Linked DNA regions of Homo sapiens: region 1 is linked to region 2. Evidence: fine-mapped expression QTL. Tissue or cell type: lung. Region 2 holds a variant in brackets; the other region holds the start of a gene. All regions are shown on one strand. Distances are from middle to middle.

Region 1 (5,390 bases), 21 kb before region 2:
AAATAAATGTATTGTCATCACCCTCTAATATTATAAAAGCACATCATGTTTGTAACAGCCTTTAACTGTCTAGTGATAGAAACCTTGATATCTCAGTATTTGATAACTTACTTTAGGGCATTGATTACATAATTCACTTCTTTTGTATTCCGAATTGCATCCACCACAGAGCTGAATATACATAGATACCTAGGAAAATTTATTGAATGGAATCCATTCAATAAATTGATATTGAATGAAATTTATTGAATGGAATTGATACTCCTGAGCCCTTCTCAATATTAGTTCCTCAGTTGTTGTGATTTGTTAATTCAAAAAAAAAAGGGGGTTTGTGATGTAATTCAGGAATGGAAAACCAAACATCGTATGTTCTCACTGATAAGTGGGAGCAAAACTATGAGAATGCAAAGGCATAAAAATGATACAATGGGCTTTGGGGACTTAGGGGAAAGAGTGGGAGCAGGGTGAGGGATAAAAGACTACAAATATGGTGTAGTGTATACATGGCTGATGGGTGCACCAAAATCTCACAGATCACCACTAAAGAATTTACTCATGTAACCAAATAGCACCTGTTCCCCCAATAACTTATGGAAACATTAAAAAAGGGTTTTGTTGCTAAAGATGGGAAAATTATGATTAAACAAAGCTTTTAACATGTTATTGTGCCCTGTGAATCTACAAAAAGAGGGCATAGCAAAATACACTTCCACAAATGATTCAACCGTGAATTCTTTTTTCTTTATCATAAAGGATCTCACAATACTAGAGTTCTGAAGAGCATTAATTGTTTGTTGTTTTCTGCAGCACATGGCTTCTAGAATTCAAAAAAACTTTTCAGTTAATACTTTCAACTAGTACATGCAGATCTCTGTTAACGTAAGATAAAAGTAATGTAAAATACCAATGCTCAAGCATAGAACTCTGCTTCGTGCAATTTGGCCCACAATTCTAACATTTTATTTTTGGACAAGACATTCTTGTGGTGACTTTTTTTTTTTAAGAAAACATTTCTCAATATCAAGAATCACCCAATAAAATTATAGATGACCTTCAGAGTAAATGTCCATGTTTTTAAAAATGATGCAGAAAATATAATAAACTTGAGCACTTTGTATATCCTCTCCTGTGAACCATGGTTACATTCAATTGTACATTCACTTCACTTTTGTCCCTCCAGGCCCTATGTGGGAACATGTAGTACTTTCACTGGTCAAATTGGCAGACCGTGTCTCTCTTGCTGTTGCCACACATCAGCTGTGCCATTCTCTGTAGGTGGTGAACGGAAGGCAACTCAACAAAGGAACAAACTGTCTATTCCTACTGCCAAACCCTGGAAGCAAGGAGCCCACACAAAAAGATAAGAATAAATAAAACGACAGTAAAATAAAATGGAGACTGCAATATTGGAAACAACTAAAATCAGTTTCAGTAGCAGGGAAATTAACAAATAAATTATGGTGGTACATTCATATAATGGAATACTCTAAAGATAATAAAGATTCTGTTTCTAAAAAAATCTCAGGGTCTAGGGGAAAACTCACAATACAATGTAATGAAAAAGCTGGTTGCATAGCTGGGTGTAAATTATAGATATATATGTATACATATATATATATGAGGAAAAATACTAAAAGAAAATTCAATCAAAAGATTACTAGGGCTAGAATTAGAAGTTTTTTATTCTTCTGTAGTTCTCTATGTTATAAATATTTTATTTAAAATGTATACTCTTATTATAATTAGAAAAAAGTTAAAATCTTTTTTAGAACATTTAGTTTTCCATTCAGTAGTTGAAACATTTAGTAGTTCCATTCTTCCATTTTTAAGTTTGGGTTACAAATATAAAAAACTAAAGCATGCAATTCTATATTAAAGGCAATGAAGTCTTCGGCAAAGATTTATATAAAATACTAAACTTTTAAAAAAATGCTACTAACCATGGTAAACCTAAGTAGTGTTTTAAACTACAGTTTAAATCAAAAGTGTATAAGTGCAAGTTTCTTTTTAATCTGCCACATAATTCTATCTCCAATACTTTAGAATAATATAATGAATACTATATTTAGTACTTGCATTATGTTTAAAAGTATGGCTATAGATAGGGTCATATGCAAACTATCATGATATTTTATTTGTCTTTAGACAGGAAGAGTGCATTTTCTCTGTCTATAGAGTACTTGGTTTTTAAAGTTAATTCAGTGACTGTTTTAAGCACAACTAAATTACAACTGAAAAGAGATGGTACAATAGTTAGAGAAGGGATGACACCCAGAAATGAGAATGAAAGCATGAATTTCCATATAAAAAACTCACTAACTAAAATAATAAATGCACAAACAGAAATAAAGAAATGTACAAATAATTATTGCTTTAAAATATTATTTTACATGGCAACTGTATCTGCTTCCTTTTTCATCCAGCTCCCTACACAGCTGGAATTAGCAGGCATTATCCTGTGGCCAAACCGATTTCAGGTTTCAAGACAACTACTAATGACTTTGTAATAAATAAGTTTAAATAGAAAGTTTTTAAGTGTGCAAAATTGGCAAAATTGATTCCATTTAAACCTCCTTTACCCAGTCCTCTAGCCCAAAAAATATATGACCACATACCCTAAAGAAATAAAATAGCCTGCTTTATCTTCTGCAATTATAAGGGCTCCTAACTTATTTAAGAAAAAATAATCTATCTTGCCTTGTTGCCACCACTTCTCATAAGAAAACTCCTCATAAAGAGAAAACAATTCTATCAGTTATAACAAGCTGAATGCTACATGTTCTAGTTCCTGCAAAGACAAATATTAGATTGTGAGACTTACCAGATTAGTTACACACGACTTTAGGCAGCTATTTAAAACTGTACACTGCACCACAGAAATCCATAGGCAGCCAAGAGTTGCAAAATTGACAAGCTTCGGAATAAGACAGTAAATGTTCTTCATCACTTCACCAATGGCAGATTTTTAGATGGCCGGTCTAATTTTCTCCATTTTGCTATATGAATTATTTGGGCTTCATCACTTCAATTGGAGGAGTAGCTGATGGATTTTGCTTTGTTTGTTTTGCTATATTAGGATATACTTGCCTTTTGAAATAATACTTAGCCTTTTTCATTTAGACCTTTGAATGCTTGAAAGCTTGTAACAGTTCCATAAGAGCTATTTCATAACAGCTTCCTTTTACTCCCATAAAGTCACCCAGTGACTAAAGGTTAGTTCTTAGAAGTGCACTTCACATGGAAATTAAAGAAAACGAATTGTATTTCAGCAAGGGTGTGACACATGCAGTCTGAAACTGGAACATTTCAGTGGGTCGTCCACCACCTTACTTCTCTGAGCTCTTTTCAGCTCTGCAGGGAATTGGGTTTTGACCACGTATGCTTTAGCAAACAGTAGCACTATTATAATAAAGAATTATTGGAAAAATAGAGGCACCCAAATCAAGCAATGCAACTGAGAGAGAAAACAGAACTCAGAAGCCAAATACATATTTTTAAATTTAAGAGCAAACAAAGCTGAAATTAATAGACAAATACCCTGGGAGAGAGTTAAAAACAAGGAAGTTGGTTAGAGTACTCTCAGAACTTTACTACATATTAACTAAAATACTGACTTATCAGGTCTATCGAGACAGCTGAAACTAGTTACCAGAAACCTAAGATATGTTCAAGTGTCTGCTTTGAGAAGGAAACATTGTACAAGCTTCCTTCCTGCCTGCCTTCCTTCCTCTCTCTCTCTCTCTCTCTTTCTTTGAGACTGAATTTCTGTCTGTCGCCCAGGCTACAGTGCAGTGGCATGATCCCAGCTCACTGCAACCTCCGCCTCCCAGGTTCAAGCGATTCTCCTGCCTCAGCCTCCCGAGTAGCTGAGACTACAGACGCCCGCCACCATGCCCAGCTAATTTTTGTATTTTTAGTAGAGATGGGGTTTCACCATGTTGCCCAGAGTGGTCTCGATCTCTTGACCTCGTGATCCGCCCACCTCGGCCTCCAAAAGTGCTAGGATTACAGGCGTGAGCCACCGCGGTACAACAGGCCAACCTCCTTGTTTTCTTAAATAAATTATACTAAATGTAACTTAACCTTTTCTTAATGATATAAGGTTCTCCCTATGAGTAACACATGCATGAGGTTTTGTTTTGAGCTGAACGTCTTTTGATTGGATTTTTGTTTGTTTGTTTTTTAATTTTTGTGGGTACATAGTAGGTGTATGTATTTATGGGGTACAGGAGATGTTTTGAAACAGACATGCCATGTGAAATGAGCACATCATGAAGAATGGGGTGTCCATCCCCTCAAGCATTTATCCACTGAGTTGCAAACAATCCAAGTATGTTCTAAGTCATTTTAATATGTACAGTTATTATTGACTGTAGTCACCCTGTTGTGCTATCAAATAGTAGGTCTTATTTATTCTTTCTACATTTTTTGTACCCATTAACTGTCCCCATCTCCCATCCCCCACCCCACCCACCACCACCCTTCCCAGCCTCTGGCAACCATCCTTATACTCTCTTTGTCCATGAATTCAATTGTTTTGATTTCTAGATCCCATAAATAAGTGAAAACATGCAATGCTTGCCTTTCTGTGCCTAGCTCAATTCACTTAACGTAATAATCTCCAGTTCCATCCATGTTGTTGGACGTGACTGAATATGGCTGAATAGTTCTCCATTGTGTATATGTACCACATTTTCTTTACCCATTCATCTGTTGATGCATACTTAGGTTGCTTCCAAATCTTAGCTATTGTAAACAGTGCTGCAATAAACATTCACATGCAGATATTTCTTTGATATACTGATTTTCTTTCTTTTAGGCATATACCCAGCAGTAGAATTCTAGATCATATGGTAGCTCAATTTTTAGTTTTTTGAGGAACTTCCAAACTGTTCTCCATAGTGGTTGTATTGATTTACATTCTCATCAAAAATATACAAGGGTTTCCTTTTCTCCACATTGCCACCAGCATTTGTTATAGCCTGTCTTTTGGACATAAGCCATTTTAACTGGGTAAGATGATATCCCATTGTAGTTTTGATTTGCATTTTTCTGATGATTAATGATGTTAAACACCTTTTCATATGCCTGTTTGTCATTCGTATGTCTTTTGAGAAATGTCTATTCAAATCTTTTGCCCATCCTTTGATTGGATTATTTGATTTTTTTTCTATAGAGTTGTTTGAGCTTTTTATTTATTCTGGTTATTAATCCCTTGTCTGATGGGTAGTTTGCAAATATTTTCTCCCATTCTGTGGGTTTTCTCTTAACTTTGTTAATTGTATCCTTTGCTGTAAAGAAGATTTTTAACTTGATGTGATCTCGTTTGTCCATTTTTGCTTTGGTTGCCTGTGCTTGTTGGGTATTGCTCAAGAAATTTTTACCCCAAC
Region 2 (5,390 bases):
CCTATATTTCAAAGGAGTTACTAAAACAGAGATCTAAGACTGAGTAGGTCTTGGTTAGTATGCTAAGCTTTGGTTTTTGGGGAACTAAAATTGTCCCTATGAGCTCGAATTGGGGCTTTCTTATTTACCTAAAAACATATCATTAGGTCAATCAGTTTAATCAGGCTATTCTTCCCTGATCACTAGAATTCTGAAAAGTTAACCCTAACTAAATCCCTTTAATATGTGTGAAAAACTAGACTTCAGTTGTCCTTTCTAATCATGAAGACCACTGTGTTGACAGGATTATTGAGCACTGTGTCTTTGAATCTTCTCCCTGGGAGAACCCTGACAGTAGAAGACCATTAAGAGTTAAGTGGAGGTGATGCCCATCTCTGGATGCGGGCTTTGAGTTTTGAGCTTTGAGCTTTGCAGGAGCTCAAATTTTCTTCGTATCTCCAGTTTTGGTTTTAAATTCATGCAAACTTAGGATTTTACTCTATAACATTTTTTAATATAAAAATCAATTAAAAATTAACACTGGATCCACCAACTTCCAGACTTCTTTAAGTGAGCTCAGGTTTGTGTTAAGATATTTTCAGTTTGTTATTTTAATTCTTAGTCAAGAACTTCTCAATTGATATACCATAACAGAAGCAAGAAGAATATAAAATGTTAACAACAAAAGATGAAGCCTAACACCTTGGATGTTCTGGATGTTCCAAAAATGTTCATGGATGATGAATATAACTATCAAATGAGTAAAGTTTTAATGTCAAAAATATCCCCAAAAAAGTCTATCTATTTTTCTGGGAGCTTATTTCACTAACAAATGCAGGATGTGTCCCAATTAAACCTCAGGAGCACATGGCCTTTATTTACCAGTAAAGTTTGTCCCAGATATTAAACGGTCTTGCTCAACTACAGTTTACTGTCCACAGCCAAGACAGCTATATGTTCCCATAGCATATGTAGTGCAGATGACACAGCTAGTGTAGGCATTTTTCTGCTTTTCTAGTTGCTTTTATATCTGCCCTGAATTCTTACTGTAATATTCACTCCAAAACTTGCTCAATTGATTTCAAGAGGATTTCTCAATAGCTGGTATACCCCAAGCCACTTACTTCGAGTTACAAGAAAACTATGTTCTCATCCTAACCCCACCTGCCTCTTAAACCTCTACTTCTGTCTCTTCCTCTGGGAACTGAATAGTCAGGGATTCCCAGGGGAACAAGAGAGCCTGGAAATGGGTCTCAAGAGACCCAGTTGTGAGAGCTGTGTTAAGATAGCTGGCCTGTGGTCCCCAGGACAAGCACTGGCCTCATCAGGAGTGAATACTCTTATCTAGAAGGACAGGTACACATTGTTTTCCTCTTCCAAGACTTGAGTTGCTGGACACCAACTCAAACTCTGGACACTTCATTCTCTTCAGATCTTACTGCAACACTTGGAAATTTCAACATGGCAGTCTACCAGATCTAATTCTATACCAACACACTGTGTAAAGATCAGTTCTTCCCCTTCTTAAAACATTTTCGTGGCTAACGCATGTAATCCCAGCACTTTGGGAGGCTGAGGCAGGCAGATCACGAGGTCAGGAGATCGAGACCATCCTGGCTAACATGGTGAAACCCCGTCTCTACTAAAAATACAAAAAATTAGCCGGGCGTGGTGGCGGGCGCCTGTAGTCCCAGCTACTCGGGAGGCTGAGTTGAGGCAGGAGAACGGCCTGAACCCGGGAGGCAGAGCTTGCAGTGAGCCGAGACGGCACCACTGCACTCCAGCCTGGGCGACAGAGAGAGACTCTGCCTCAAAAAAAAAAAAAAAATTTTGCTGCCTTTCCATTTTCCTTAGAACAATCTCTGAAATCCCTAAAGTTGATGTGGTGTACAAGGACTTCCTCAGCCCACCTGGTCACCCTCTCCCTCTCTGACCTTCTTCTCTTACATCACCCTCCAACCAGCCAGACTCCTTCTGGTCCTTCCCTCCCCCCGTGAGCCTTTCCCATAAATCTCCACTGCCTGGAAAGCCCACCCCCCTCCCCAGCAGATTCATCCCACCCATCCCTCACATCATTTCCCCAGGGGCACCTTTTCCAACCCCAAAGACTAAGTTGTTTCTTCATTGTATGGTCTCAGGGCTCCTTGCATGCTCTTTTTGCCTACAGTTGCCACACTTATAATTATTTTATTGTCTTATATAACTTTTTGATTATTTATTTAAAGGATTTATTTCACCCTAGATTGTAAATCCCCTGAGATTAGAGAAGGTTTCACTGCTGATTCCTTGAACAACAATTTTGGCTGATAGGTTCAACCATGTGAAATGGCCGATAGACCAACATCTTGACCTTAAAAAAAGTCAGTTTTAGGCTGTGTGCAATGGCTCATGCCTGTAATCCCAGCACTTTTGGAGGCAGAGGCAGGTGGATAACTTAAGCT[G/C]AGGAATTCGAGACCAGCTTGGGCAACATAGCAAGACCCTGTCTCTAGAAAAAACAGAAAACATTAGCAAGGCATGGTGGTGCATGCCTGTGGTCATAGCTACTTGGGAGGCTGAAACAGGAGGATTACTTGAGCCCAGGAAATCAAGGCTACAGTGAGCTGTGATCATCCCACTGTACTCCAGCCTGGGTGGCAGAGTGAGAGACCCTGTCTCAAAAAAAAAAAAAAAAGTTAATTTTATATGATCCAATTCAATAACCATTCAATACATATTTATCAAATAAATACATTAATAAACCATACATTGTGGTTTTAGGTGGTGTGTGTGTGTGTGTGTGTGTGTGTATAATCAGCTACTAATGTAAATTTTTACTTTTAAAAGAAACTCCTTAAGTTCTGCTAACTTTTTAAATGTATTTCATTGGGTTTCATAGATATTTCTCAAAGTTAAACACAACAACAAATTCCAAAAATGGTCCCTACTAGAAATACAAGTTTGGCAATTTCCCTCACCTCCTTTGATCTTAGGTTAATTTTCTATTCTCCTGAGTTTTCTTCATTCTTCTGTGAAATTAAATTCAGCCGCCTGTCGAGCTCTCTGGATCCCTTGCAGGTGAGTTCTGCATGACTTCCTTCTGACCTGTGGAAGGAGGAACAAGGAATATTTCCAAATTTTGCACTGCCACCCCCTTCCCTCCCTGAGCGTTAGGCTAGACAGTAGTGGCCAGAAGCCCTTCTTGCTTCTCTCCTCCTGAAATTGATTCAGCCATTTAAGACTATGACTGTTCTCCCACACAGAAACTCCTCTCCAGAAATGCTTGGCCCAAACTCCCCTAACATTTGTAACTTCGTATAACTCTTTTGGTTCAAGTGCAACAAAAAATGAGTGGTACGGTGATGCCAATTTTGAGGTATCATAGTTAAGCCATGCTAAGTCACTTTAAAAACATTCCATTTTATTCCTCCCACAAAGTCACCCCCTCAGAGACTCTGGATGAGGGGAATACTGAGGGAGGAAAACATCCAGAAGAACAGAAAAAGGCAGTGATGTGGGACTTGAAAAATACTGCACAGAATTCTGTCTTCACCCCAAAGGCTGATTATTATAAATTAAACAGTTTGCCCACCTCAAGCAAGCATTCAACAGGCACATCCTATGTGCCAGTACTGTGATAACCAGCACCTTAGAGGCACTGGCATCCTGGCTTATGAAGCCCAAGGAAGGTAAAGAAGAGATGATTTTCCAGGCATGGTGGCTCACGCCTGTAATCTCAGCACTTTGGAAGGCTAAGGCAGCAGGATCACTTGAGCCCAGTAGTTCAAAGCCAGCCTGGCCAACATGGCAAAACCTCATCTGAACAGAATATTTAAAAAACTAGTCTGTCATGGTGGGTGCATGCTTGTAGTCCTAGCTACTTGGGAAGCTTAGGTGGGAGGAACGTTTGAGTCCAAGAGGTTGAGACTGCAGTGAGCCATGATCGCACCACTGGACTCCAGTCTGGGTGACAGAGGGAGACCATGTATCAAAAAAATAAAAATAAAAAATTTAAATAAGAAGAGATGATTTGATGATACAGAGAAAAATAGGAATGATCTAAAAGAAAGCAACTGAAATGGCTTGCTGCTCAAACTTAAAGCCTTTGCTAAATGCCCATGCTTTGGAGCACTAGAGAATGCCTGCTTTAAATATAGGACAAGAGAGGTGCTGTGCATCATGAAATAAAATGATGCCTAACGGCTAACTGGAAGAAAACAAAGATGAAGGAAGAACAAGTGGTCTAAGAAGAAAGGAGCAAGTCCTTCAGAAAGAAGGTTCTTGAAAACATCACATCCTGTCCCTCATCCCACCTCAGGAGCTGCTTGCGATCCAGGACGCCTGAAACCCTGCCTTTCCAGGGAGATTAGGGTAGAAAGCTCTCCCAGTAACAATCTGCTGATTTGAATTTCTGATGAATAGCAGCTCTGTGGAATTTATCAACATAGCCAGACCAGAGCCACTCTCCAAGGGACAAAGAGCCAGCATCGCCTGAGAGGAGAAGCTTTCTCTCCTTCACCCAGACTCAGCACTTGGTCTGTACCTGGCAAAAACAGGAAACAACAGCAATAATAGGAAAAGGAGAGTGTGCACGCACAACAGTCACAGTAATCCTGCCTTGGAAGGCCAACCAGATCGCTCAAGATCCCCACTCCTTTAATCCTTAATGCTCAATTCAGTGAGCACAATTATGAAATCTGTTTTACAGACGAGGAAACTGACGCTTGATTGATTGAGCCAGAGGTAAAACCCAGATGTGTCTGACACTACATCTCCAAATCTCTATATAGCCAAACATTGCATCTGAAATTCATGGCTTCCTTACTCTCTTAAATCATTTCCAAGTTAATTGATTCTATAGTCTATAGACCTGAAAGTAATTAATCATGGAAATGTTGAGGAATAAACTAGTTTTTCATATACTGCCTTTCTACTCATCATCCCTTTTGCTGACAGTCTGCTGCAATGAAAACATGACACCAAGGATCTATTTACTTTATTTTTAAACAGCTTTATTGTGATATAATTCATATACCATACAGTTCACCTATTTAAAGCGTGCTATTCAGAGGCTTTTAGTATATTTACAGTTGTGCAACCAGCACTGCTATCGAATTCCAGAGCATTTTCATCACCCAAAAAAAAAGAAACCCCGACCCATTAACAGCCGCTCCTCATTCCCCCTCCCGACAGTCCCTGGTAACCACTAATCTACTTTGTCTTTACTGCCAACTCTGGACATTTCATATAAATGAATCATACAATATGTGGTCTTTTGTGTCTGGCTTCTTTACTTAGCACAATGTCTTCAGGGTTTATCCAGGTTGTAGCGTGTGTCAGTACTTCATTCCATTTTATTTCTGAATAATACTCTATTATATGAATATGCCACATTTTCTTCACCCACTTAGCAGTTGACAAACATTTGGATTGTT

The links.
Region 1: ROS1 starts here. The variant in region 2 is fine-mapped to the expression of ROS1 in lung (TOPMed, PIP above 0.99).

The regions. Positions count from the first base shown.
Region 1 is chr6:117,422,713-117,428,102 of GRCh38, forward strand. It overlaps ROS1 (ROS proto-oncogene 1, receptor tyrosine kinase), which reads right to left and starts at 3,230. Exons shown (of 44, transcript NM_001378902.1): 1 at 2,822-3,230. The coding sequence starts at 2,944.
Region 2 is chr6:117,443,752-117,449,141 of GRCh38, forward strand. No RefSeq gene overlaps it. Among named protein-coding and RNA genes, the nearest start is that of ROS1, 21 kb to the left of the region's middle. The variant G/C (reference allele first, on the strand shown) is at 2,421.